Linked DNA regions of Homo sapiens. The protein of the gene in region 3 interacts with the protein of the main gene of each other region in a pairwise test. Each region holds a gene or a part of one and is shown on either strand. Other genes may lie near its edges.

What was found.
Region 1: the proteins of ZNF124 (region 3) and BACH2 interact in binary tests that used the Homo sapiens proteins (3 or more experiments, as listed by UniProt).
Region 2: the proteins of ZNF124 (region 3) and SRRM4 interact in binary tests that used the Homo sapiens proteins (3 or more experiments, as listed by UniProt).
Region 4: the proteins of ZNF124 (region 3) and PDE4DIP interact in binary tests that used the Homo sapiens proteins (3 or more experiments, as listed by UniProt).

What each region holds. Positions count from the first base shown.
Region 1 is NC_000006.12:89,943,837-89,950,871, forward strand, and holds part of BACH2 (transcription regulator protein BACH2), read right to left. Parts: coding exon 6,434-7,035; intron 1-6,433. UniProt on the Homo sapiens protein: Transcriptional regulator that acts as a repressor or activator. Binds to Maf recognition elements (MARE). Plays an important role in coordinating transcription activation and repression by MAFK.
Region 2 is NC_000012.12:119,152,534-119,159,568, forward strand, and holds part of SRRM4 (serine/arginine repetitive matrix protein 4), read left to right. Parts: intron 1-1,005; coding exon 1,006-1,116; intron 1,117-1,709; coding exon 1,710-1,850; intron 1,851-3,961; coding exon 3,962-4,265; 3' UTR 4,266-7,035. UniProt on the Homo sapiens protein: Splicing factor specifically required for neural cell differentiation.
Region 3 is NC_000001.11:247,169,014-247,176,124, reverse strand, and holds the start of ZNF124 (zinc finger protein 124), read left to right. Parts: upstream 1-4,104; 5' UTR 4,105-4,247; coding exon 4,248-4,277; intron 4,278-7,111. UniProt on the Homo sapiens protein: May be involved in transcriptional regulation.
Region 4 is NC_000001.11:149,029,418-149,033,541, forward strand, and holds the end of PDE4DIP (myomegalin), read left to right. Parts: intron 1-369; coding exon 370-508; intron 509-814; coding exon 815-861; intron 862-1,755; coding exon of another isoform or gene 1,756-1,807; intron 1,808-2,526; coding exon 2,527-2,568; coding exon of another isoform or gene 2,569-2,672; 3' UTR 2,673-3,599; downstream 3,600-4,124. UniProt on the Homo sapiens protein: Functions as an anchor sequestering components of the cAMP-dependent pathway to Golgi and/or centrosomes.

The DNA.
Region 1 (7,035 bases), on a different chromosome or scaffold from region 3:
ATTAGCATGATACCCTGAGACACTGATGGTGTGGTCAGCTCTCCGAAGTCTTTAACGCCTGTACTCTGAGGAGACCCTCAGATCCCAGGGAGCTGTCGAGGGAGGAAGCAATATGCCCATTGGAGATGATTCCAGTGCTGCTGGAACCAGGACAGCCAGCTCAGTGCTGGGCAGATGGCAATGACAAAATCTCCCCTCCCAGGTGAAGAAATGTTTCTCGCGCAATTGTCCTTCCACGCCCTCTTCTCATGGTCCAGTTTCTAGCACAAATATGGGACACCTGGGATTCAGTTGTGATACGTCAATTAATTAGTTGTGTGATCTCAGGCAAGTCTTCATTCTGTCTGTCCCAAAGTTCTTGGAGGATCTAGGAGTCACAGGGCGATAACGCCTGCCCTACTTAGCTTACAGGGTTGCTATGAAGAATACAACTGGATGACAGGTGGAGAAAGTGCCTGGGAAAGTTTCAACTGCCTGATAGATACAAGGTATTATTATTTCTGTTTATTAGCCCTATCTATCTCTGTCACATGGTTTCGTCTTACAGACATGTGCTTTGGAATTCCAGACACTTACAATGTTCTAGACAACATAAAAACACTGTTTTAATTAGAAATATGGCTGATTTCTATGCTGCCCAGCAAGGTTTCTTTTTATTAAGCAGACCAATTACAGACACTTCTAAAAACTTGCCTGATTCACCAAACCACAAAAATGATTGTGAAAATTTTACATACAACATGTGTCTCAAAGTCAGCATTGGGGTGGGAAGAGTTAGAGTCAGATGGCTCTTCTATTCTGTACCATTTCCATGTTTTCTCTGGACTTTATCTCTCTCTTCCCTTCTCTCTCTCTCTCTCCCGCCCCCTGCCTGCCCCCAACACACTCTCTTACTCTCATACACTTTTATCTCTCTCAGTGTAAAACATGTTAATAAAGCAAGTCCAAAAATCCATACTTTTGACTGTGCAAAGAAACTCTCTGTGGTGCTTCTTTACTAAAATCTACAATTAAGTAGAAATGGTCCAGTTACAAAGCTGTCTTACTAAGAGGCTTACTACTTTGGAAAATGACTGTAATTTTCTATAATTTCCAACATCTAAAAACAAACCTATAAACCATAATGAGATAAACCATAACTACTCACACCCACTAGAGGGCACTAACAAAAAAGATGGGCAATAACAAGTGTTGGCGAGGATGCAGAGAAACTGGATCCTTGATACACTGCTGGTGGGAATTTGAAATGGTATAGCCACTTTGGAAACAGTCTAGTAGCTCCTCAAAAGGTTAAATACAAAGTTATATGATTTAGCAGTTCCACTCCTAGGAATATTATGGAAATAACTGAAAACATGTCTTAAAAACAACTTGTACTCAAATGCTCACAGCAGCATTATTTATAATAGCCCCAAAGTGGAAACAACCCACATGGCCCTCAACCAATGAACAACAAAATGTGGTATTAGTCAACAAAATGGATCAACATTATGGAATATTACTCAGGAATTAAAAGCAACAAAGTACTAATACATGACAATATACCTGGTGAGTACATCAATGGCAAGGGTAAACCTTCAAAGCATTATGCTAAAGTGAAAGGAGCTAGACACAGAAGGCCACATCTTGCAAGATTCTATTTATACAAATGCCCCAAACAAGTACATCTACAGAGATAGAAGGTAGATTACTGGTTGCCTGGGGCTGAGGGGAGTGGGCAATGAGGAGTAACTGCTAATAGGTACAGCATTTCCTTTTAGGGTGGTGAAAATGTTTTAGAATTACATAGTGGTGATGGTTGTACAACATTGTGGATATATCAACAACCACTGAATTGTTCATCTTAGTAGGGTGGATTTTATGATATGGGAATTATGTCTTAATTTAAAAAATAAACCTGTGCAAGATAGACATACATAAAATTCAAACATTACAGACATACATAGAAATGAAACTTTCCCTACACTCCTCTCCAACGGTGCTCCCAGTTTTTTCTTATTCTCTATGCTGATTTTATTTATATGGTGTGTATATTTAGGAAACAAACTAGGACCTTGTGCATACTGCTTTGTGATTTTCACTTATGTGACTTGTTCATTTTTTTTTACTGGAAGAGAAAAATTCCCAACCTGACTTCTTAAGGAATATAGCAAATCCAGAAGTCATAAAGAAAAAGACTTATACCTTGACTACATAAAACTAATATTTTTTTATATGGGAAAAGGTACAATAAATAAAGAAGCAGACTAAGGGAATATCTAAGCAACATTTATGAGAAAGGGTTAATATTCCTAATATTAGGGATTAAGATTCCTACATGTTGATTTAAAGTTAAACAATACAAAAGAAAAATAGGCAAAGAGGTAAACCAGCAATTCACAGGAAAGGAAATATAAATGTTCAATACACATAAAACAAGATGTCAGCCTCATTAGTAGTCACCATTTTTTTGCCCATCAAATTGGCAAAAATTAAAAAGACTGGTGACAACTAGTATGGGCAAGAATAGGGGAAATTGGACACTCTAAGTTGCTGATGAATATGTGAATTGCTACAACATTTTGGGTAGGTCATTAGGTAGTATTTAATAAATGGGCACAACCTTTAGCCCATCTTTGAAACTAACCCACAAAAATAAATGCACCACTACTAACAGTAGGGTCACAAAATGTTTATTGCAGCAATGTTTATCAGAGGGAAAAACTGAAAACAACTGAAATGTCTGGTGATAAGTGACAGCTGAATGAACTACGATTTACGAGAACGAGAGATATTGGAGAAACATGTCTTGGCCCTGTGTGATCGACCTACAGCCACGTGCATGGTAGACAGCTACGTGAAAAAAGGAAGCTGCTAACTCTACAACATAATGCCATTAAAATAAAACCCAAACCCATAGAGAGGTGAATATATATTTGTATATTGTTGTAGGCAAAGAGAAAGCCTGTTAAATTTGGTATGTTTGGGGCTGGGTATGCTGTGTTCTAGAATTTAAAAAAGAATGTCATTTTAAAAAGCTGATTATTGATAAAGGATAATACTGCGCTAATTTGATCTTTCTCGAAGCCAGGGAACAGTTAAAAAGGATGGGAGAAGCCAACGACTGTGAGATGGAAGGGCTGCTTAACACGGTATAACTACAACATCTTACAGAATACAAGGTATGTTAACACTTCACTTTTGGTCTAACGTTTTGGCTCCCTACGGGGTGGAGGAAGACAGATTGGGAAAACACACGCGAAGTATTACACTGGCGTCTGGCAAGGGGTGGAAACTCCTGTCTTGATTTCTGACTCTGGTGTCTCCGTGGGGTTCACTTGAAAGAGAAGGCACCTGGATCCCATATGAAAGCAGGGCAGGGCAGAATTAGCCCAATAGATGCTGGCTTCTTCTGGATCAGTTCAGGAAAACAAGTTTTGACTTGTGGAGAAGGATCTGCCTTGAGCACTATTACTGGGGATAATACTTCAACCAGGGTCAAAGTAACTCCCTAAAGCAGGTTATCAACTCCTCGAGCAGCAGTCATGGCAAGTCCCTGAGACAGTTCTTGGAAACCTAACCTCCTCTACTCTAGGAAAACTAAGATGTCAAATTGGGAAAAACCTTAACTTTACTGTAACTGTCCTGTCCAAACTGTACCACTGAGAGGGGCTATGTTTTCCAAAATGGCATAGAGCTTTGGTAAATGTCTCTTCTTTCACTGTTCAGGAATGCAGAAGATGGATTTTTCTTTCTTTTTTTTTTTTTGAGACAGAGTCTCGCTCTGTCACCCAGGCAGGAGTGCAGCGGCGCGATCTCGGCTCACTGCAAGCTCCGCCTCCCGGGCTCACGCCATTCTCCTGCCTCAGCCTCCTGAGTAGCTGGGACTACAGGCGCCCACCACGACGCCCAGCTAATTTTTTTTTTTGTATTTTTTAGTAGAGACGGGGTTTCACCGTGTTAGCCAGGATGGTCTCGATCTCCCGACCTTGTGATTCGCCCGCCTCGGCCTCCCAAAGTGCTGGCATTACAGGTGTGAGCCACCGCGCCCAGCCATGGATTCCTTTTTTAAAGGTAAAAATAAGAGTATTTTTAAAAGTAGCGGTATTTCTCAAGGGGGGAAGGCTAGTCCTGTTCATGACTATTTTACAGGTTGAATGAGTCCTCCTTTTAATTGAGTTAATATTTTTAGTTCTAAAGTAAACAACTGACATGGTCCCAACATACACACAAAAAATGTGTTCTTGCTGTGGCCCCAAGACTTTAAGCTCTCTTTTGGGATATTGGCGGCGAGGGTGGGGGGACACAAAAGAAGATGTATCTGAAACTGACAGTTCTTTGAACATATGCAAATGTCATAAAAACACCACCCTCCCTTGAGCTTAATGGCCAGCCTTTTATTTTTTTTTGAGACAGGGTCTCACTTTGTCACCGAGGCTGGAGTGCAGTGCCACCATCTCAGCTCACTGCAACCTCCTTCTCCTGGGCTCAAGTGATCCTCCCACCTCAGTCCCACAGGTAGCTGGGACTACTGGCACGAGCCACCACGCCTGGCTATTTTTTTATATTTTTGGTAGAGATGGGGTTTCACCATGTTGCCCAGGCTGGTCTTGAAATCCTGAGCTCAAGTGATCCACCCACCTCGGCCTCCCAAAATGCTAGGATTACAGGCCTGAGCCACCATGCCCGGCCCCAGGCTCCTCTTAAAGGAGAGACAAAAAACAAAGACTGCAGGCCTTTGTGCTCTTCTCCCTCCACCAGTCCTTGGTAGGAAGCCATGATGCGGATGAGGTGGACGCAGTGACTTGCCTTCCACATCAGGCACGCTCATTCACGGTTTCAGAACAAAAGGAAAACCTCACAAAAGAGGTCAGAGGGAAAGAATGAGTGAGGAGAGAGAAAACACAGCCTTTCACTATTTTCGGGAAAGCTCAATCTTCCCAATGTCAGGGACACAGATGTGAGCCTGGCTTGGGGCACTGGGCACAACCCACCACCCCAAACCTAAGGGGAGGTGGTATATTCGCATGGGAATAGCTCCCATTCATATTTCCTTTCTAATTTATTTTAAATTAAATCCTTGCAGTGTTTCTCTTTCTCCATGTCTGCTAGGCAGTTAAGAGAGGGGCAGAAACCAGGCTAGCAAGCAAAGAAAGTGACCACAGGGCATTTTTGCAGTTGGCACAGGGGCCTTTGGCATCTATTTTCAAAACACGCCCAAACTAAAACCTCATGTGCTTCTCGCCAATCTTGCAGAGGCTGAATAAACTGCACGTGGCTCTGTGAAAAGCCACCTCATCCCGTATGGCATTTCTGCTTTCTGGCTGGGTTAACATCTCTGCCTTACAGAGGCTGGTAACATCCAGAGAGCACAGATGGGTACCAAGGTTGCCGGCCTCAGGAGGACCATGTTTCATTTCTTCCTGTGTTTTTGGGATACACAGCTCTGAGAAGGGACTTGTCACTGGGTTTGTTCAATCCCGCTCCTGAGGGGGGTCTGAGACACAGGTAGCAGTCTCAAGCTGGTACCTTGTCAATCAGCAAGACAGTGCAGTGAACGCCAGGTCACGACACAGACTCTCTCAGGTCTTTCTAGGGAATGTTCATGTTATTGGGGAGGTGGGTCCTCTGCAGGGGCCTCTTCTTTCCTCTCCTTAGTCTTGTGAGTCTTGCTCACGATGTGGCTGCTGTTGCCCCTGTTCCCCTCTTCCAGCAATGGTAAGACACACATGGAGCCTCTGGACATTTTTCCTAGCAAGTACATTGCTTTCAGGGTGGATGAAACTGCTACTCTACCCCACTACTTCTCAAAATGTCTTCCTAGCATTTGAGGGAGCTTGGGAAATGATCCATTATACATTATGTGTGGCTGACTAGGGTGCTTCTGTGATGACCCCAGGACCGGGATAAACGGTGAGGCTTCCATCACCTTCACTGTGATGGACATGGGATGGCCCTGGGGTCTTCTGTTGACAAGGAAAATCTAAAAGGTGCTGGGAGAGTGTTGATCTATTTGGTTTCAATCAATCAATCTGGAAAGAGATTCTATATCTTCCTTTACGCTGAACGGGTGAAGGGCAAGGATGAGGGTGATGAACATGGCATCCTTTCAAAGCAGGTGTAGGAGGGGGAGAGAGGGAGGAGAAAGAGGGGGGTCTGGAGTGCCTCAGTGTACTTCATGCATTAGACTTCAGTATATTTTTACTCAGCAGCTTGCCTCTGCTTGTCGAGTATTGAGATCCAGATCAAATATCAAGTGCTTTTCTAGGACAGAAGTGGTTAATGTGGAATCACCTTCAGCATCCTGCCTCTGTGGATGGGGAAGGCAGTCTCTCTACTGTCATCTTTAATCTTAGCACGTAAGAACAATGTGGGAGTGGTGGGGGGCAGGGAGTAGTCCAGATAAAGGGCCTAGAGAGTGGGTCACATGCTTGAATTTATGTGGGTTCCCTACCTCCTGGCCCCTGTCCTGCACAGGACACGACTCACTGTCTGCTTCCGAGAACGATCCGGATTCGTCACTGGAGTTGGTTCCATAAGACTGCTCACATTTAATTTGGGGCCGCACTTGGTTGTACATTCCATCTCCCATCAGGCCTGGTTCCTGATGTTCTGTGGCAAGGAATCTGGCTCCCTGGGAACAGGGCGAGGAGGAGAACTCACAGAGAGGGAGGCTGCAGGGTGAGCCCCCGCTCCCGTCCTCCGCGTAGGAATAGGAAGAGCAGGAGCTGGAAGTCCTGGTCCTGGTCTCCAAGGGGGGTGAGCGAGGGCAGACTTTGATTGGTACCGGGCAGCTGGTGTTGGGCCGCATCCTTCCTGGCAAGTGGTCGGCCATCAGCCCACCGTGGGAGTAGGCCTGCGAGCTGGGGAGGGACTGGCCGGCTCCCACCCACAGACCCTTTGGCACCGGCTCAGAGAGGTCTTTGTCCAAACTGCTCACCCCAGAATAAGAATGCACCGAGGTGCTCACTTGGTCACAAGCGCTGGAGGAGAAGATCACGCTCCTCCGGTCCAGCTCTCCCTCCTGTTTACAGAGAGCCTCCAACCCAGGCCCCC
Region 2 (7,035 bases), on a different chromosome or scaffold from region 3:
TGCTCAGAAGAGCAGCTATTTCAGGTTTTTAATTCTATGAAAAATGACTCAGATGGCTCCACAGAAAAGGGACTCTATATGGTGCAGTGAATGGAAATTCTGATAATATCCTTTCAAAGTATCCAAAAACAGGTTTCATCTTGACTCTTTCTTATATCTCTCAATGCATAGCCAAAGCATAAGTTGGCAAAAGCACATTTTTCCAGTGACCATAGCTGGACACTGCTGAGGGCACTGAGAAGGGAAGAGCTATTCCTGCCCCTGTTTTCTAAAAGTGGGAGGCATTAACAGAAAGCAAAGAAGACTAGGAGGAGCATAAGGATTAGTCATGTAGATGCACAACAATATAGTCTACAAAAATCAAGAGCACTTTGAAACCAAACAGACGTGAATTAAATTTGGCTTAGAGGCAAACAGTCCTGGGTTCACATCTCTTACCAGCTGTGTTTAGCGAAGTGCATCATCTCTCTGTGCCTCTGTTTCCCCATCTATAAAATGAAATTGATAATAGTACCTAACCCTAAGATGTGTTGAGGATTAAATAATACACACAAAGCACTGGTTCAATGTCTGGCACATAATAAAATATGTCATAGTCATAGCTAACATTTCCTATGTCCTGTCTAATTGATACTTAGCATAGGTGCCAATATGCTATGTGATTTACCCGAATTCACTCATTCAATTTACAATTGTCTAGGGTAAGGACTATTATTACCTGCATTTTATAGACAAGAAAACGGCCCAGGGAAACGAAATCATCTGCCAAGGTCACACAGCTAGTAAGTGGCCAGGATAGTAGGCACAAAATAGAAGTTGTTGGTATTATTATTAACCACCGGTGGGGAGGGGCTTTCATTCTTTGATCGGGGCCCAGTTCCTCTGCCTGGCTTCCAGAAAGAAAAAGGTCACTGCCCAGGGACCCGCTGAATAAAGCTCAAGCCGTCTTGGATAACCCAGGCGGACACTCAGCAGGCTCCTCAGAGGCTGTTACCTCTCCCCCAGGTCCTACTCCCGCTCTCCCAGCTATTCCTCCAAGTCTGGCAAGAGGAGCCCGCCCAGCAGAAGCTCTAGGTCCCGCCGCAGCCCTAGCTACTCCCGCTACAGCCCCAGCAGGTACCGGCCCCGCCCCTCAAACTAGGCCCGTCCTAGGCCCCACCCCTTTGCTCTGATCCTCCTCTCTGGCCCCGCCTCCCCGTTCTCGGGCCTTCTTCCTCTTAGGTCTGACCCTGACTCAGCATTCTTACAGTTCCCTTTGTCCAATCAGGAGTGGCAGCGAGGCATCAAATACCCTTGTTTCCTAATGTCTCCAGCCCAAACAGTCCCGCAGACATACCCCAGAATTCACATCCCCAGCCCTCAGCCTCTACAGACCGTCCCCATATTCAGAGCCCCCAGTTCTTACCCACGCACCAGGGCCTGCGTAACATTCACGTCCTCACCCCTGCAGCACCTGCCCTGCTATGATGCCCACCTGCAAATGCTGACACCCCTGCACAAGCCCAGCCCCCACCCCTACGGTACTAACAACCCTCGCAGACTCTTACCGCAGCCCCGTCATCCTCCCTCCGGTCTCCCTTGCGGCAACGTGCAGACCCCATCCCGTGACCCAGTGGGGTGGGAAAGAAAGGGAGTGTCCCTCTCCCACGCGCTCACGCAGAAAATCCAGCCCAGCCCCAGCTCCCCAGTAACCCCCCGCGCCCCTTCAGGGAGCGGGATCCCAAATACAGTGAGAAGGACTCGCAGCAGCGGGAGCGCGAGCGAGCGCGTCGGAGACGTCGGTCCTACTCGCCTATGAGAAAGCGCCGGAGAGACTCCCCGAGCCACCTGGAGGCCCGGAGGATAACCAGGTGAGGCCAGGGGGCAAGGGGGACCCACCTTCATCCTCGTTCCCACTCCCATTCTTACTCATTCGAGCCTCAGGCTCTCCCTAGGCCTCCTTGGGGCTGGGATTTAGGATTGTGCGAGCTTATGGTCCCCCCAACCCCAACATCATTGAAATTACGTGTCTGTTCAAAGCCTTGGGACTGAGTCTCCCAGCTCAACCAGCAGGGCCTGCAAGAAGGGGGCGGGGCCAGCCTGAAGAATCGGGTGTGGCATGGGGGAGTGGCCAAAGCCTGAGGGTGGAGCTGGGGCCGGGGAGGTGGAGCTGGGGCCGGGGAGGCGGAGCTGGGGGAGAGAGTGGCGTCAGGCCAGGGAATGGAGGCCAAAGCAATGGAGCAGGACCTTGGCCTGGTGGTGGATCCCGAGCAGCGGAGACAGACCTCTACCCTCAGACCTGTACACTCAGCTGTCAGGCTTAAATAAACCTATATGTAATTATACCTTGAACCAAGTGTGGAAAGGACAAACAGGATTGCTTAGTTCCCAAAGGGACCTAGAGGGAGCCACGGTGGATAAGCCGGAGAGCACTGGATGTGGATTGGAATCCTGAATGTACCACTTTGCAGGTGACCTAGGAAAGGCTCTTACCTTCCTGAGCCTCAGTTTTCTCACCCATGAGATATTGGAAGAAATAACTCCCAGAAGCATGAGGATGAAATGAAAAGGGGCAAAAAGATGTGAACGTGCTTTGTAAACTTGAATGCAGAGTACACAATGTGCCATTGTTGATTGAATGGTCAGAATAGGTGGATACCGTTCCTGGAACAGGTAAGGCCTCAGAAGAGAAAAGCTCTAGCAGAGAAGTCTGAGTGCAAGCAAATTTCTCAGGCCTTGAAAGCTGGGAGAATGATTGAATGCTGCCCTAAGATTGGGTTGGGCTCTTCCTGCTGGCCTTCCAGGCATCTGCCACTCAGTCCAGACACTGGACTGAGGAATCAGGGATTCTCCCTGGAGATGACCTGGAGGAGGAAAAAGAATGTGTTTCCCAGATAGCAAGGCTGGGGTGATGGGTCCCCTTCTCCAATATCCCACAGGGCACCCTGCCTCAGCTTGTAAAGAATTCCTAAACCCTTGGGAGGCCAAGGCAGGCGGATTGCTGGATCTCAGGAGTTTGAGACCTGCCTAGGCAATATGACAAGACCCTGTCTCTACCAAAAATACAAAACACTAGCCAGGCATGGTGGTGTGCACCTGTGGTCCCATCTACTTGGGAGGCTGAGGTGGGAGGATCATTTGAGCCTGGAGTGGGGTGGAGGTTGCAGTGAGCCGAGATCGCACCACTGCATTCCAACCTGGGTGACAGAGCGAGACCCTGTCTGAAAAAATGTAATTAATATAATATAATACAATATAATTCCTAGCATAATTTCTAAACCCACTCCCTTGATCCAGTGTCACACAGCTATTAAGTGGCCAGGATAATAAGCACAAAATAGAAGTTGTTGGTATTATTATTATCTTTGGGGTCAACCTAGAGGAAAGCTAAGATAGAGAGTGGCATTTCCAAATGGCTGTCTAGTTTCTTTAGTCAATCTCAAATAATTCATCTTGATTAACCCATTCAGTGTTTCCCAATCTTTAGTCATTCACCAGTATCTTGACCACATATGACTTGTCTGTTTATCAACTGTACTATTCTTAATTTTCTTTAAATAGATATGACTCTTTTCAAAGGTTCATACATTTATTTCTAAAGGAAACGATACAGTACAGTAAATGGAAAATTAGCCTCTTTTGCCATAAATAGATGGTTCTAGTAAAAGTAAAAATAGGAAAACAAAACTATGATTAAAGTTTAGATGTAGATTCTGTTGCAAGCTGAAGGCTCTGAGCTCCAGGCTTGCTTCATGGGGGAAAGAAAAAAGTGAGATAATCATTTTTCAAGACATACTAGCACTAAGCTGAGACTTTTACTTTGATGTGTTCTCAGCACTGCAAGAGAAGTGGAAAGGGAGTATTTTTTCCTAAGGGACTGGGGAAAGGGAGGATATTGGTTTCCCTTGGGACAAGACTGGGGCTCGCTGCGGGGAGGCACGGAGGGGCCGGCCCTCATCCCTCCTCTCTCTGGTCTCTGCAGTGCCCGGAAACGCCCCATCCCCTACTATCGGCCCAGCCCCTCCTCATCCGGCAGCCTCAGCAGCACCTCCTCCTGGTACAGCAGCAGCAGTAGCCGCTCGGCCAGCCGCAGCTACTCCCGGAGCCGGAGTCGGAGCCGGAGCCGGAGACGGAGCCGGACCCGCACGAGCAGCAGCTCTAGCTCCCGCAGCCCTAGTCCGGGCTCCCGCAGCCGGAGCCGGAGCAGGAGCCGGAGCCGGAGCCGGAGCAGGAGCCAGAGCCGGAGCTACAGCTCAGCAGACAGCTACTCCAGCACGAGGCGCTAAGTGCCCCTGAGCCAGCTGCCCGTGGGGGCCCCTTCGCGCTGCCAGCCTCCCCCAACCACCTGCCCTCCCCGCCTTCTTGGTGACAAATAGTGAGGGCTCCTATACCTTGTCCTTCCTGCTTGCCTAGGGGAAGAGGAGAAGAGGGTAAGGGGGCTTCACTCTCTAGATCAGCCTGCTAGGAGCCTCTACCAGCATCATCCTGGGGCCCAGCTCAGGCCTGGGCATATGGAAAGAACCATCATCTTGTGGCACAAAAAAAGAAGAAAGAAAAGAAAACTTCAAGGTTTTGTGAGAAGCAATGGGTCTGTGACTCAAAAATTGAGCCCTGGCCAGGAAAATGTGGAGACAGTTCTTCTCCTCCACTGCTCACAGGAGGCCCGTGGTAATTCTCCCCACCTCCCCGGATGCCCCACTAGTCCAACTTCATGGCTGCACGTGGATGGACCCCCATGTCTGAGAGGGGTGAAAGAGGAGACCAATGGCAGTTCAGGTTCAAGATAACGGGGTCAGGCCTTTAACTTCCTCAAACAGGCCCAAGCAAAGGCTGGAAGACATTTGGGTCCTAGAAGAAGGGATATCCTTGAATACCAGATGGGGACGTTTGACTTGGTGGGAGGTGTCAGGAGATAGGAGTTGGTTAAGATGATAGATAGAAAAACGGAAGGGTTCAGCTGCTGCTCCCAATACCTCAGCATGGTAAGGGGACAGAGCCCAGCAGATCCCAGCTGTGAAGAGGCCACTGCATGGCTGACACAAAACACCTCTTGGCCATTCACAGGGGCCCTGCAACCTCACGAGAAAGGAGATAGTGGAAGAGTCAGGACAGGTTGGTCTCCAGCCCCACTTCCCAAATATGCCTCAGCCCCACTAGCTGGCACCAACTTAATTCCACGGGACCATCTGCTGAACATTCCCCAGTGCCATGGCCAGTTGCCAGGCCCCAGCGCCAGCCAGTCTGGCCTTACCCTCCGGTTGGCGCCTGCCAGCCCCCTCCCCTCTGCCCAGGCTGCCACGCCCTGGATGCCACCCAGTGCAGCCTGGCACCTACCCACCCACCCTTCAGCTTAAGCCACTCCCCTTGCCTCTCAGGAATTTTGCCAGGATGGGGCACAGCAGCTCAGGTTTGGGGGAAAAGACCCGAATCCAGAGTGCAGGGGAGAGGGGCTTGGATATGCCATGTCTTGGGCTCCTGCTGGCTTCTGAGGTTTCTTGTCAGCTTGGGAAAGACCCACCTTTATTTTTGCCCTCACCCCAAGTCCCCCCTGGCTGGGGCTGGGCAGAGAGGGTAAGCTGATCTCCGATCCACAAATACCACCAGCTGCTTCATCCACAGAAGGCGCTAAGAACGGGGAGGTGAGGAATAAGATCCTTAAAATAAACTCTTGGGCATCCCCCTCACCAGCTGACTGGCTTTCCGGAGGCTTGTGGGTGAGTTTCAAGTTTGTGGTGGCAACAGCAGCAGGACAGGGCACGGAGGGAGCGAGGGAGAGAGGACCGGTCCCAGCTTTTGGATATTTTGGGTTATGGGGAAGCAAGGGCCAAACATTCTTTATCCCTCCCACCCCAGGGAAAACATTTGGAAAATAGTCCTTTTTCTTGGAAGCAGTGACGTCTCCCTACCCAATCTTTCCCATCCTATCAACCCATGGGGCTAGAGACTGCCATGCAACCACCACCACGACAGCCCTTCCTCCATCAGAAGACAGGAGTGAGGGCCCCGGGCAGCAGTGGACGACCCAGCCTCCCCATACCGGGCCTCTGGCCCAGACCTAAGCCCTGCCCACAAAGACTAATGGATGCCAGTGCTGTCACTGCAGAAGGCCAGATGGCAGGTGCCTGGGACAGGGGCAGGTGCCCCGGGGAGGGCAAGTACAGCCACTGTAAATAACCCTCGTCCCTGCCCAGGAACCCAGACTGGACTTCAGTCTCCCTCCATGGAGACAAAGGCTTCCCAGAGCCACCAAAAACCTTCTTAGCAGGACAGCTGTGAGAGGCATCAGAACCTCACGTTCGGACTGCCTTCATCAAGACAACTCTAGGGGACCATTTTGCCTGGGGCTCCTAGCAAACCTTTTTATTTATTTTATTTATTTATCTATTTATTTATTTGATGACTGTCTCTCTTTCTCGCCATTAGCAGTATTGAATTATTTATTTATACAGAGGTTTTGTGTGTGTGTGTGTGTGTGTGTGTGTGTGTGTGTGTGTGTGTGTGTGTGTTGGGGGGATCTCCTAAATTATTTCTGTGCATCTCCTTTTTTTTTCTGCTGTTTTTTATGGATGGGATTTGAGAGGCCAAAGGTGAGTGGGCTATTGGCCTTCTCCCTGAAGGCTCTAAGCCTGGAACACCCTGGGGTTGGCCCAGAAGGAGGCACATCAGTCCCAAAATTCATCACTTAACCCAGCGTCCAGGAGGGTCAGGCCTGTACCCCAGCCTCCTGTCCCCCAGGAACCTCACAGGGGTATCAAAAAGATGTAAACAGCCCAGAGGCTTATGAGCTACAGTGATGAATTGACACAGTGGAGTTGCAACTTAGGTGGGGGTTGGAGTCGAAAGTTGGCAAATGGGGCCAAGGCTGCACAAAGTCGAAATCCCTTGTGAATGTCCCTTAGGGAGGCACCAGATTGGAGACAGATGTGCTATCTCCTAACAGAGTGATGAGGCTTCAGTTGAGTACTTGCTGAAGTAGTTGCCTTGTATTTTGAGGGCCATGGTGGATGAAAATGATGTCTGGTTTAGTACTGGAATTGCACTTGGGGTTGACAAGGT
Region 3 (7,111 bases):
TATGCTATATATAGGACTATATATATATACACATACACACACGCGTATATATATAGTCCTATATACATAGTCCTATATACAGATTTGCCCTATGTGTAACAACTACGTAGATAAAAAAGTTATGAAATTGTTTTTGGTTTTACAATGCTATATTAAAAACATTGAAATTCACCAATTGAACAATCTATGCAAGGGTATTATGGTTTTTTGTTATTGTTGTTTAAGTCCTGAAATACAGAGATAAGAGCTGAGTGAGCAGCCACTGGTGGAGAAACAGTCTTCACGGGGCCAGTATTTTTCTGCCCCGTCTCATTTGGCTGCGGATCAACACATGTCATTTAGTACAAACAAGCAAACAAAAATAGCAATATGCTTGTGTGCCTACCCCAGATGCTTTATGTGCAATAATGAAATGAGGAAGGGGAAGATAAGAGAATGGAGAAAAGGATACTGTACCAGCCAGAATGTGGAGTCAGAATGTGGTGTCAGAATGTGGAGTCAGAATGTGATGAAATCACATTGTGGGTTTCTACATGAGAATGTCTGCTGGAGTTGTAGGAAGAGGTCCTGGGTAAAGGAGCAGGTGTGTTCTTAGAAGGCCCTCCTGTCTGCTGCTGGAACACATCACCTGTTTATTCGTCCTCCATTTCCCGCTTTGCAGGTGTGTCAGTTTCACTGAGTGACCGTCCGTAAAATCCAAATCTGATTTGCTTCATGGCCAAACCCTGCCATTCACCATAGGCTTCCACTCCTTCATTCAGTGATGTGTACTTCTTCCCCTTCAACTGCGCCCCAGAACCATCCTACCCTCCACCTTCAAATTCACAGAATTGTTGTTCTGTCTTGACTCAAACTTTTTTCCTGCCACAGCAGAGCACTGAAAGTCTCTTAAGTTACAGCTTCACAACAGAAGTCTAAAGTCTGCGCAGAACTAGCACATCTGCAGCCGTAGGAGCAGCAGAATGACCAGGCAGCAGAGCTTTATTCCATGTTTTCATCTCCATTCCTACAACAGCAGCGGCAGCAGCAACAACTGCTACTACTTCTAATTGTGGTAAAAATACTTAGAATAATAATGCATAATGACAATTGTAGTTGACATTTTTGGTTTATATATGATTATTTGTAATGTTCTACAATTTACCTTTAGTAATATACACATAACTTTTGCATAAACATCAGGACCCTAAAACACCACACCTGATGATTGAATCTCACCTATGGACCTAAGGTCTTCACATGCTGGTGCAGGCCCTCTCACCACTCCATCTCCAAACAGAGGATATGGTCCACCTTCTGAGTCAATATAGTAGCCCTGACACTCACATGATCTATTTGAGGTCTTGGAAAACAAGCTTGCCTTGTTAAAAATCAAAGGATGGGCCGGGCACGGTGGCTCACGCCTGTAATCCCAGCACTTTGGGAGGCCGAGGCGGGCTGATCACGAGGTCAGGAGATGGAGACCATCCTGACTAACACGATGAAACCCCATCTCTACTAAAAATACAAAAAAATTAGCCGGGCATGGTGGCCGGCGCCTGTAGTCCCAGCTACTCGGGAGGCTGAGGCAGGAGAATGGCGTGAACCCGGGAGGCGGAGCTTGCAGTGAGCCGAGATCACACCACTGCACTCCAGCCTGGATGACACAGCGAGACTCCATCTTAAAAAAAAAAAAAAAAAAAAAAATCAAAGAATGGCTTCAAATTGTAGTCAGCTGTTTCGTTAAATTGCAGCAGGAAGAAATTTTTCTCAGCAGGTCTATTTTCATGTCACTTGCTTTCAGAGTAAGAGGTTATTTCAGACACAGTGGTTTGATTTAGTCTTTGTTGAAAATCATAAATAGCCTACAAACAACAAAAAGGGATGAATAGGATTTGCGTTCATGTGGAGTGCGTCATCTGTGCTTTTAAATTTATCCTATGAAAAGAAATAAAAAATATGTAATATCGAACATTGGTTTCCTAAATTAGCAAATCGACCATTTCCTCAAGTTATTCCACGTTCTTCCAAGATGTGTCAGAAGCATTCTCTGGAGGCAGTTGTTCCAAATGGTGAAGAGTACTAGATGGATCCCAATCTCACAGGATTCTTGCTTCTATTGCAGAAGAGTTACTTTCCAGGACTTCAAAGGTTTAGAGAAGCTGCTTGATTCGTGTGGCTTGCAGAGGTGCATGGGCTTTGGAGTCACGAAAAGTTAATCCTGGTCCCAGCCCAGCCTCTTAGTAGCTGTGAGGCTTTGCACAACTTCCTTGTCTTGGAAAGTTATATAAACCTCATCTGCAAGAAAAGGCATGATACTGATTGCAAAAATGGCAGCAACTCTTCATCCCTTCCTGTATTTATGCCCTTTGTGATGTGCTTTTATAGCTGCTTTCATTGAGAGGCAGAATCTGTTTCCCAAACCTTGAATCTCACTGGCCTTATTTGCTCTGGCAGTAGAAAGCTGTGAATATGACCATGTGCCAGTTTGGGGCCGAGGCACAAAAGCTCTTGAATGCTTCTGCTTTTTATTTCACAACCCTGTCATCTCCATAATAACAAGTCCATGTTAGCCTGCTAGAGGATGAGATACTATAGGGAGGAAAACCAAAGTGCCACAGTTGACAGGCAGCTCACCCTCAGAAGCAGCATTGCCTAGTCAACCAGCAGCTGACCACACGTGCCTGAAAGGGCCCAGCAGAGACCAGAAGAATGGCTCACTTGAGCCCAGCCTAGAAGGTGGACCAGCTCAATCTAATACGTTTTGGGGAATTTTACTGTGAAGCAATAGGTAATACGTACACCTAGTGCAGACAGGATGCCAGGATTCAATGACATGTTGATTGCAATTTACCAGGCAAACACAAGGCACCCTGTATGTACTGATTTCCTTTTCCCTTTATGTAAAGTTGGATTTCTGGTTAGACGGTGTTGAGCCATACAGAAGTGCACGTAGACATGCATGTGATTTGTGCTTAAACTCACACACTTAAATTCCACACCACAGGAGGAAACAGAAAACCACAGCCTGACCATTAGGGCCAAAGCCAAATTGCAAAATGAGAAGTTTGTCTTTAATGTATTCCCTCTACATCTAAAGTCCTGAGGTTAAGGCTGTGGACAAATCTGAAGACATGGGTTTTCTTCTCCTGGGGCCCCTCATCTTTTTTTCACTGTCTTATCTATAGAAGAGGCTGGGCCCCTGGCAAGAGCAGGTGGGAAATAGTAGACTCCCTCTAGATACTTCTTTATTGCAGCCCACTTCTCTCTCTGGGCACTGTCTCTGCCACCCTTGGGCCTGAGGAGAGATGTTAGCAGAAGGAGGGCATTCCCTCACCTCTAGCAGAAAAGAGGGGTTCGGGCCCTTCACTCCCTGAGGTCAGGGGAACCAGAGCCCTCAAAACTGCACTTCAGTGTGACAGTCATTGCCCACAGGGGTCTACTTAGCACCTAGAATGTGGCTGGTCTGAATCGGTACATGCTGGAAGTTTAAAACGCAGAGTGACTTTGAAAGATTTAGTACCAAAAAACAGAACAACAAAAAATACTTCATTAATATTATATTTATCATATATTTAAATTATAATATTTTGTATATATTGAGTTAAATAAAGTATTGCAATCAATTTTACCTGTTTATTCCTCGTTTCTGTTGCTACTAGAAATTTTAAAATGACACCTGTGGCTCACATGTGATTTCTGTGGAAATCGCAGCCTTGGAGGATTGCTTCCCTTTTCAAAACTCGGGCTCCTCAGACTGCTTCCTCAGAAGACCAGAGGCCATGAAGGTTAATAAGTCTGAAATTTTAAAAGAATTATTATTATATTGTTTCCTATTTTAAATATCATATATATTATTCACAAATGAATGTAACATTGTATACAAGGTTAAGTGTATATAAATGAATGTCCCCTAGGCAAGGCTGGGTCCCAACCCAGAGAGGAAACCCTCTTGGAGAAGAGCTGTAGCCAGAACGCTGCCTCATTCAGACACGCGCGGGAGCTGTCACCTGTCACTAAGAGTCTGAGGGGGCGGGGCCTGAGGCCCTACCCAATCAGGGGCACCGGGGCGGGGACTGCCTAATCCGGCGCTCCGCTAGAAAACCCGAGGCGGCTTCCGGGTGTGCCCGGCCTTTGTCTCTCGTGCCCGCACGTGCGTGTCTCGGTCAGTAGCCCTGCGCTTCTCCTTCACTCTCGGCGGTTCAGGAGGCTCTGCCGCAGCCGGGGCCCTCCTGTGACCTGCATGTACTGGGGGATTCGCAGGGAGGATGTCGGGACACCCCGGAAGCTGGGAAATGGTGAGTTGCGCCGCCGGGGGTCTGGAGAAGGGAAGGGGCTGTGGCGGCCCCGGGCCCCGGGCTCCCAGCGGTCGGCTCCCGAGGGCGGACCCGGGTCCCTGCTGGCGCGGCGCGGCGCGGCCCTCGGTCCTTTCTGGCGCCCGGCAGAGCTGGGCGGGCAGCGGCACCCCGGGCTCCGGTCCCGTCTCTGCACCGCGACTTCCGTCCTGCCCGAAGCAGCTTCCCTCCCCGGCCCGCGCCCGCAGCCCCGCGGCTCCTCGGGATCCTGCAGTGAGACCCGAGGCGCCTCAGGGGAGAGGCCCAGCGCGGTGTGCGGGCTCGCGCCTGCGAGGAGCTGTGGCCACTGGCGTTTCCAGTCCCTCCTTAATCCTGTTAAAAATTAAACTGAGGTTTAATTAAAGCGTTACAGAGTTTGAGCAAACAGCGATTCATGAGTAGGGGAGCACCCAGCCACGGTTTTTGGTTTGTGGGCCACCGGACGGTCTTGATGGAAAGGCTTCTGTAAAGTGTGTAAGGAAACAAACCAAATTTATTTATTTTTTATTTTAATGATCGGGTGGGGCGGGGGGGGGGTCTCCCTGTGTTGCCCAGGCTGGTCTTGAACTTCTGGTCTCAACCTCCCGAAGTGCTGGGATTACCCCGCCCAGCCCAAAGCAACCCCAATTTAATAACTGATTGGTTATAATTATGTAGTTCTGTTATTCGGATTATTTAGGTGGATGGTTCCTGGTTATGTAATCAGAGGTAAATTGCTGATTTGGGGTTAAGTTTTCTTTCCCTTCAAGTTAATTACAAGAAAGGCATGAAGTACCTTTAGGTTTTCTTGGTGAGGAACTCAGGGCACCATCATCACTTAAGGGAGGAGACCACCCCTCATATTGTCTTATGCCCAATTTCTGCCTCCAAAGAAAGAAGAAGTAAAAACTAAAAGGCAGAAATGAAATCCACAGGCAGACAGCCCGGCGCCGCGTCCTGGGCCTGGTTACAGATTGACCCTTGACCTGACCGGTTGTGTTATCTATAGATTCCAGACATTGTATGGAAAAGCACTGTGAAAATCCCTGTCCTGTTCTGTTCCGTTCTGATTGCCGGTGCATGCAGCCCCCAGTTATGTACCCCCTGCTTGGTCAATCGATCACGACCCTCTCACGTGGACCCCCTTAGAGTTGTAAGCCCTTAAAAGGGACAGGAATTGCTCACTTGGGGAGCTGGGTTTTTGGAGACGTGAGTCTTGCCAAAGCTTCCGGCAGAATGAAGCCCTTCCTTCTTTAACTCGGTGTCTGAGGGGTTTTGTCTGCAGCTTGCCCTGCTACAACTTCAGTCTAATTTCTTCCTATTTAATTATTTCCACAAGGGTACTGGTTTCCCCTGCATTTCCCAAATGTAAGGCAAGCAGGGTCTCAAATCCATGACCGTATTCCCCAGCCTAACTTCTAGAACTTGCAGTAAAATTCTAAATTTCCAGTTTCTTCCTCATACTCTCAAACTCCAACTTCACCTCTCCAATTTACAACATTATTAATTATTTGTTCTTTATTGTGCATTTGAACCAGATGCAGTAATGTAATTGTTTATCATGTTTTCACTGAGCAGTGAGGAGCTGTTTCTGAACATTCCTTGTGAAAACAGAGAATAATCACCTGATCTAGTCCACTATAAAAAATTCTTTGTACCTCTCCTCCTTTTGTCTTCCCTAGGCACACTCACAAACGTCTTTGGATGGAGGTTTCCCTTTGGAACCTTCACGTGGTGTTGTGTCCTCAGCCACCCTCCTGTCTTTTCTGGGTCCTGGGTTCAAAACTGTTTGAGGATGACCTAATGTGCCCACACTGGCCCTGTCTCTTGGAGTGTCATAAATAGTGAATGTCAGCTGTTGGGTCCTCTTCTCCCAGAAGACAAGGTGAGGTTTAGGGGTGGAGCCTCTCAGAGGAGCAGCTGGATGGCATGAATCCCCTGGGACCGAGAGGAGTCTCCTGGGATACTCTTCTATACTCTTCCTCTAAAAAGCTAATCCACTAGGACTTAGATTTTTTTTTCTTCTCTTACCCCCGTTATCACTCCTTAGAGACAAAATGCTGGTCAGGCAGTCGGATACTGGTATTGAGGGAAGAAAGAATTTCTGCCCTCTGGATTGTCTCATGCTTGTGAAGGGAGAACAGCTATTCCAAAGTACAAGGAAACCCCGCCCCGCAGTGAGGCAGGAACCTGAAAAGCAAAATGCATTTGGGGCACAGTGGGGACACGGCACAGGTTTCTGGGGGAGGGTGGGCATTGAGTACTTCCCTGAGCAGGATGGGGTGGGAGGACACAGTGGGGACACTGGGAGAGACACTGGTGTCATCCAATCCAATGCTGGTATTTTGAGGGAGAGACAGAAATGATTCCTGCCCTCTGGATTCTTTCACACTTGTGAAGGGAGAAAAACAACCTTAAAGAACAAGAAAATTTCTTCCCAGGAAGATGACACAAAAACCTGCCAAGCAAACTGCACCTTAGGCACACAGTGGGCCACAGTGCATTGCGCTGGGAGGTTGGTCCTTGAGTACGTGGTCTCTCCAATGAGGAGACCGGGGACCAGGGAATCTCCTGCTTGAGAGATGGTCTTACTTGACATGTGAGTCAAACATATCTGTGTTCCAGTTAGCGCTGCTCCTCCCTGGGCTGTCCTCTTGCAAAGCTTTGTTCATTTATTGGTGCCTTAGGTAAACATAAAATGTATTTCATCAATAGAGCTTTAAAGATAAAATATTTACAAAGAGGCAAAGAAAGAAGTGGATATTTTAAATATATGTAGATATTTTAAATCCACTTTATATATATATTTAGTTTTTTAA
Region 4 (4,124 bases), about 98 Mb from region 3:
CCCAGCATAACACTTCTGAACTCTCAATCTTACCTGTGAAGGGAGAGTGACAGAACTGATATCAGGACTAAAGCAAGGTCCTCTTCAGAGTTGGGAGTTTGATACCAGCCTGAGGCGAGGTTCTCTTAAGCTACAGGTGTGTAGGCCTGTGCTAGTCTGCATGGGGAATTCCAGAGTCTCATTATTCCTGCCTAATGGCCTCATCCTGAACTGTCCTCAGCTGGAGGTATCCGAGGCTGTGAAGGAGGAAATCCAGTTCAAGAGAGTTGAGAAGACTGTAGAATCCTTCTTTGAATTGGAAAGAGCCACAAAGCACAGGGTGCTTTAGGCCTTCTGCCTGGTCAGTAAGAGTCTGTTCCTCTTATCCAGGGAGAATCAACAGAAAGGGAACTTCTGGAACTGAGAACCAAAGTATCCAAACAGGAGCGACTCCTTCAGAGCACAACTGAGCATCTGAAGAACGCCAACCAGCAGAAGGAGAGCATGGAGCAGTTCATCGTCAGCCAGCGTAGGTTCCCTGAGAGGGAATGGGGGAAGAAACAGGCAGTCTTCCCGATGCCCCACTTGTGCTGCAGATGAGCAGTGACCAGGGGGGCTTGGGGATGTTGGGAGTTGAGACTGATTTGATGTCCCCAAACCTCCTGTACCAGGAGCAATTGTGGCTGCAGAGGGAGGGGAGGACAGGGGGTGGATAGAAGGAGACTCCAAGCTGAATAGCCAGAAAGAAATAAATGCTTTAGAATTCTCATGCTAAGCAAGTAGGGTTAATTTCTGCTGGTGGTTTCTACTCTGTGGTGCTCTTTTGTTGTTTCAGTAACCAGAACACATGATGTTTTAAAGAAGGCAAGGACTAACTTAGAGGTAAGGAAACTACTGCACCAGTCAGAGGCACCAAGCCTGTCCCCCACCCATCACCATCCGTTAGCAGATCTTGTAGGTGACCCTTGGCCTGCTTTGGCCTTCCAGGAGAAGACTTGGGGTCCACTTGCAAGATCACAGGTCCTCAGTGAGCATCCTGCTAGTTTCTGTCCCCATCACCCTCCCACCCCGTCAGCTCCTGCCCCTGTATCTTGGTTCACTCTCACATTGTCATCATCTCTCCTTTTTACTCCAATTTTTCTTCTTTGAGGCCAAGTTCAGAGACTGGAGAAATGCAATTCAGCTGACTCTTGAAGTCATTAGACATTCGGGAGTCTGCCTCTGAATGAGCTTCTAGTAGAGGGATCTTGAGGCCAGTTATGTGTTCTACTCTTCATGAAAAAGTAAAAGCAATTTGCAACCTAATAAACTGATTTCACTGCACATTCCCGGGTTAAGAACAGCAATTTGATTTTGCTATATCTTTAAGTAACATGACAAAAGAGATCTGTTGGGTCTCATTGGTCTAAAAGCGAATTTGTTAATAAATAACAACTGAACCTTCAGGGAAAAAATGTTATATATGTACCAGACATTATCTACATTTACTTAAAACACTAAGTGTTAATCATTCCCTAGGAAGTGCTTTGAAGAAAAACTTGAGGTATATGAAATGGTTAAAAATCAGAAACTAAACCTTTTAACATGGACATCAAAGCTTTGCCATAAGCAATTCAGCATATTCCTAGAAATGTTTCTAATCCATAACCTGAGAGAATGTTGATCTCCATAGTGTGAAAATGACTTGGGCCAGTTTAACTTGCTCTTTTTTTTATTTTTTCACTAATTCCCTTTTGTTTTTCTCTGATAATTCTTCTCTTTCCTGAGCCTCTTTAGAGCAGCACTTACAGGATTGCCTCTGTAAAGCCTTATTCCTGTCCCAGAAAAGGTAATCCAAAAAGTCTCTAGTATCCACTAAAAGGTAACCCAAAAATCTCTAGTATCCACTGGCTTTCTCCAGTGTGGAAGCTTTCCCCTCCACCTCCCATAGATCACTGGAAAGGACCCGAGGCCTCGGTTCTAATCCCTGGCTTATCACTAACTGCTGTGTGGCTTTGGCTTGTCCCTTAGTCTCTGTGAGACTGCTGCACCCTCATCTGTCAAAGATGGAACTGGACTTAGTTGAGCTCTGAGGTCCCTGTGGACTTGGCCCCTCCACACCCTCATTATGGCAACTGGACATAAACTTAACAGAGGGCTTCCCAGCAAAATGTCCTCTTCTTCCTACAAACAGGCTGTTTCTATATGTGCATGTTTCATGCTAAGCACTTCTTTCTTGGGTGGACATGGCAAAGGCCTCTTTCTGCTGAGACAAAGTGATTTGGAGAGTCACCTGGCCCCTGAAGGGGGAGTGGTAGGATCCAGCCACCCAGTGTGCAGTGAATTGGAGCAGGGATCTCAGCACACAGGGAGGTGGGGAGGCTCCCCCTAACCTCGGGCACCTGTTGCTCCTCCAGACTGCAGCGCATGCTCTTAGCTCATCCTCTTAACTGGCTCTCACCGTGCTCCTGGCTTTGGTCACCACGTAGCTCTCACTCCAGCTTCAGGTAGCCATCAGTAGGGCCTGGCAATATACACTGATTTGGTTTGTTTTATGTTTGTCTGCAGGTGAAATCCCTAAGGGCTCTGCCATGTACTCCAGCCTTGTGACCCTTGCCTTCCAGGAACCATGCAAGAAGCGCAGCCACCAGAAGTCCTTAAAACAGCAGGAAAGGTGGGCCTGTCCCCCTTTTGTGCAGCTACCTATCTGCTGAGGAGCATCTGGGCCTCATTCCTCCAAGTCCACGGGAGGGTCCAGAAGAGGGAGTCAGAGATGTATCCTGGTGGAGCTGGGAGAAAGGCAGAAAGCCTTTCTGACGGCTATGGAATACGATTAGCCAAGGTCCACTTGGCCCAGCACTAAGAAAAAGATGCGTAGTTTGCACAGAAGGTTTTGTGATCCTGCCTCTCAACAGCCCCAGCAGCTTGGGAACTAGCAAGAGCACATTTCTTGCCTCATCAGCTGTCCTGAGATGGAAAACTCAGTGAATATAGGACCCTGATTCCGATGAAAGGGGCACGTGGTCCCAATGCTGGAGCTCCTCTGGCAGGTTCTAAAAGCACACTACTGAGCAGCGGTGCCCTGCCGGACACTGCTGGCGGGGGCTCAGTGAGCACTACTCACAGATCCACACCTGACCCTGTTGGGTCGAGTCAGGCTGGGCCTTGGTCTGCACTGTAGCACCTGTGTTCTTTGAGTTCACATCATGAATGTGGTGACTTCCCAGATACCATCTCAGGCTTAACCTAGCACATCCTATTTCTTTTCTTCTATGATATCCAAATTGGACTGACCTCACTTCAAAGTTGCTGTCCCATTTTGTCACCCTATCTTATCTCGGGGAAATTGCAGACTGATGGCCAGACCAACTCTGTTGAAATTCTTGCATAGAGCAAACCTGTGCTCATTTTTAAGTGGCATGGGAGAGGCCCCAAGCCTAGTAAAGCCTAGTCTGTGTCTTCACAGTGCTGGTAGAATGTGTTTGTGTGTATAAATATATGATATAGATTTATATATGTTGCTAACGCCATATATTGAAGGCCAACATAACTGGTGGACAGGGTGGGTGACAGAAAATGAAAGTCTTTTTGGTGATTGTTAAAGCAAAATGTGTATAAAGAAATAAATAGTTTTTCTTTCACTGCTTTGTTTCCCATTTCTGCACCAATCCCTTGACAGTATAAAGAACTGGAAAGAGAAAATGGGAAAGACAAACTGTGTTTAAGAAGCATATAGTCTAATGCTTGAACTCTAACTTTAAAAGATTAAGGTTTTCCTTCTTTGTCATTTTGTAAGAATCCCCAGTCTGAAAATATGAAAGAATGGTTCTTAAACTTGGTGTGCCTGAGAAGCAGCTGTGGAGATTATAGGAGCTACCTCCTGGTCTCCAATCCCAGGAGATTTAGTTGGTGTGAGCCCTAGAATCTGCATTTTTTTAATATAAGCACCCCAGGTGATTCCATTACATGTGGGCTTCAGATCACAGTTTAAAAAACAGTGTTCTATAACATTGAATCAAAACTAAAACTACATTTAAGAACCTTGAATCAAAAAGTATGTCATTCCATAAACATTGATATAAAAATTTTAAAATATTCCTTGGGAAAAGTTCTTAGCTACATGCTTTTGATTCCCAAGATTAAAATAAGCTATCACTTCACAATTA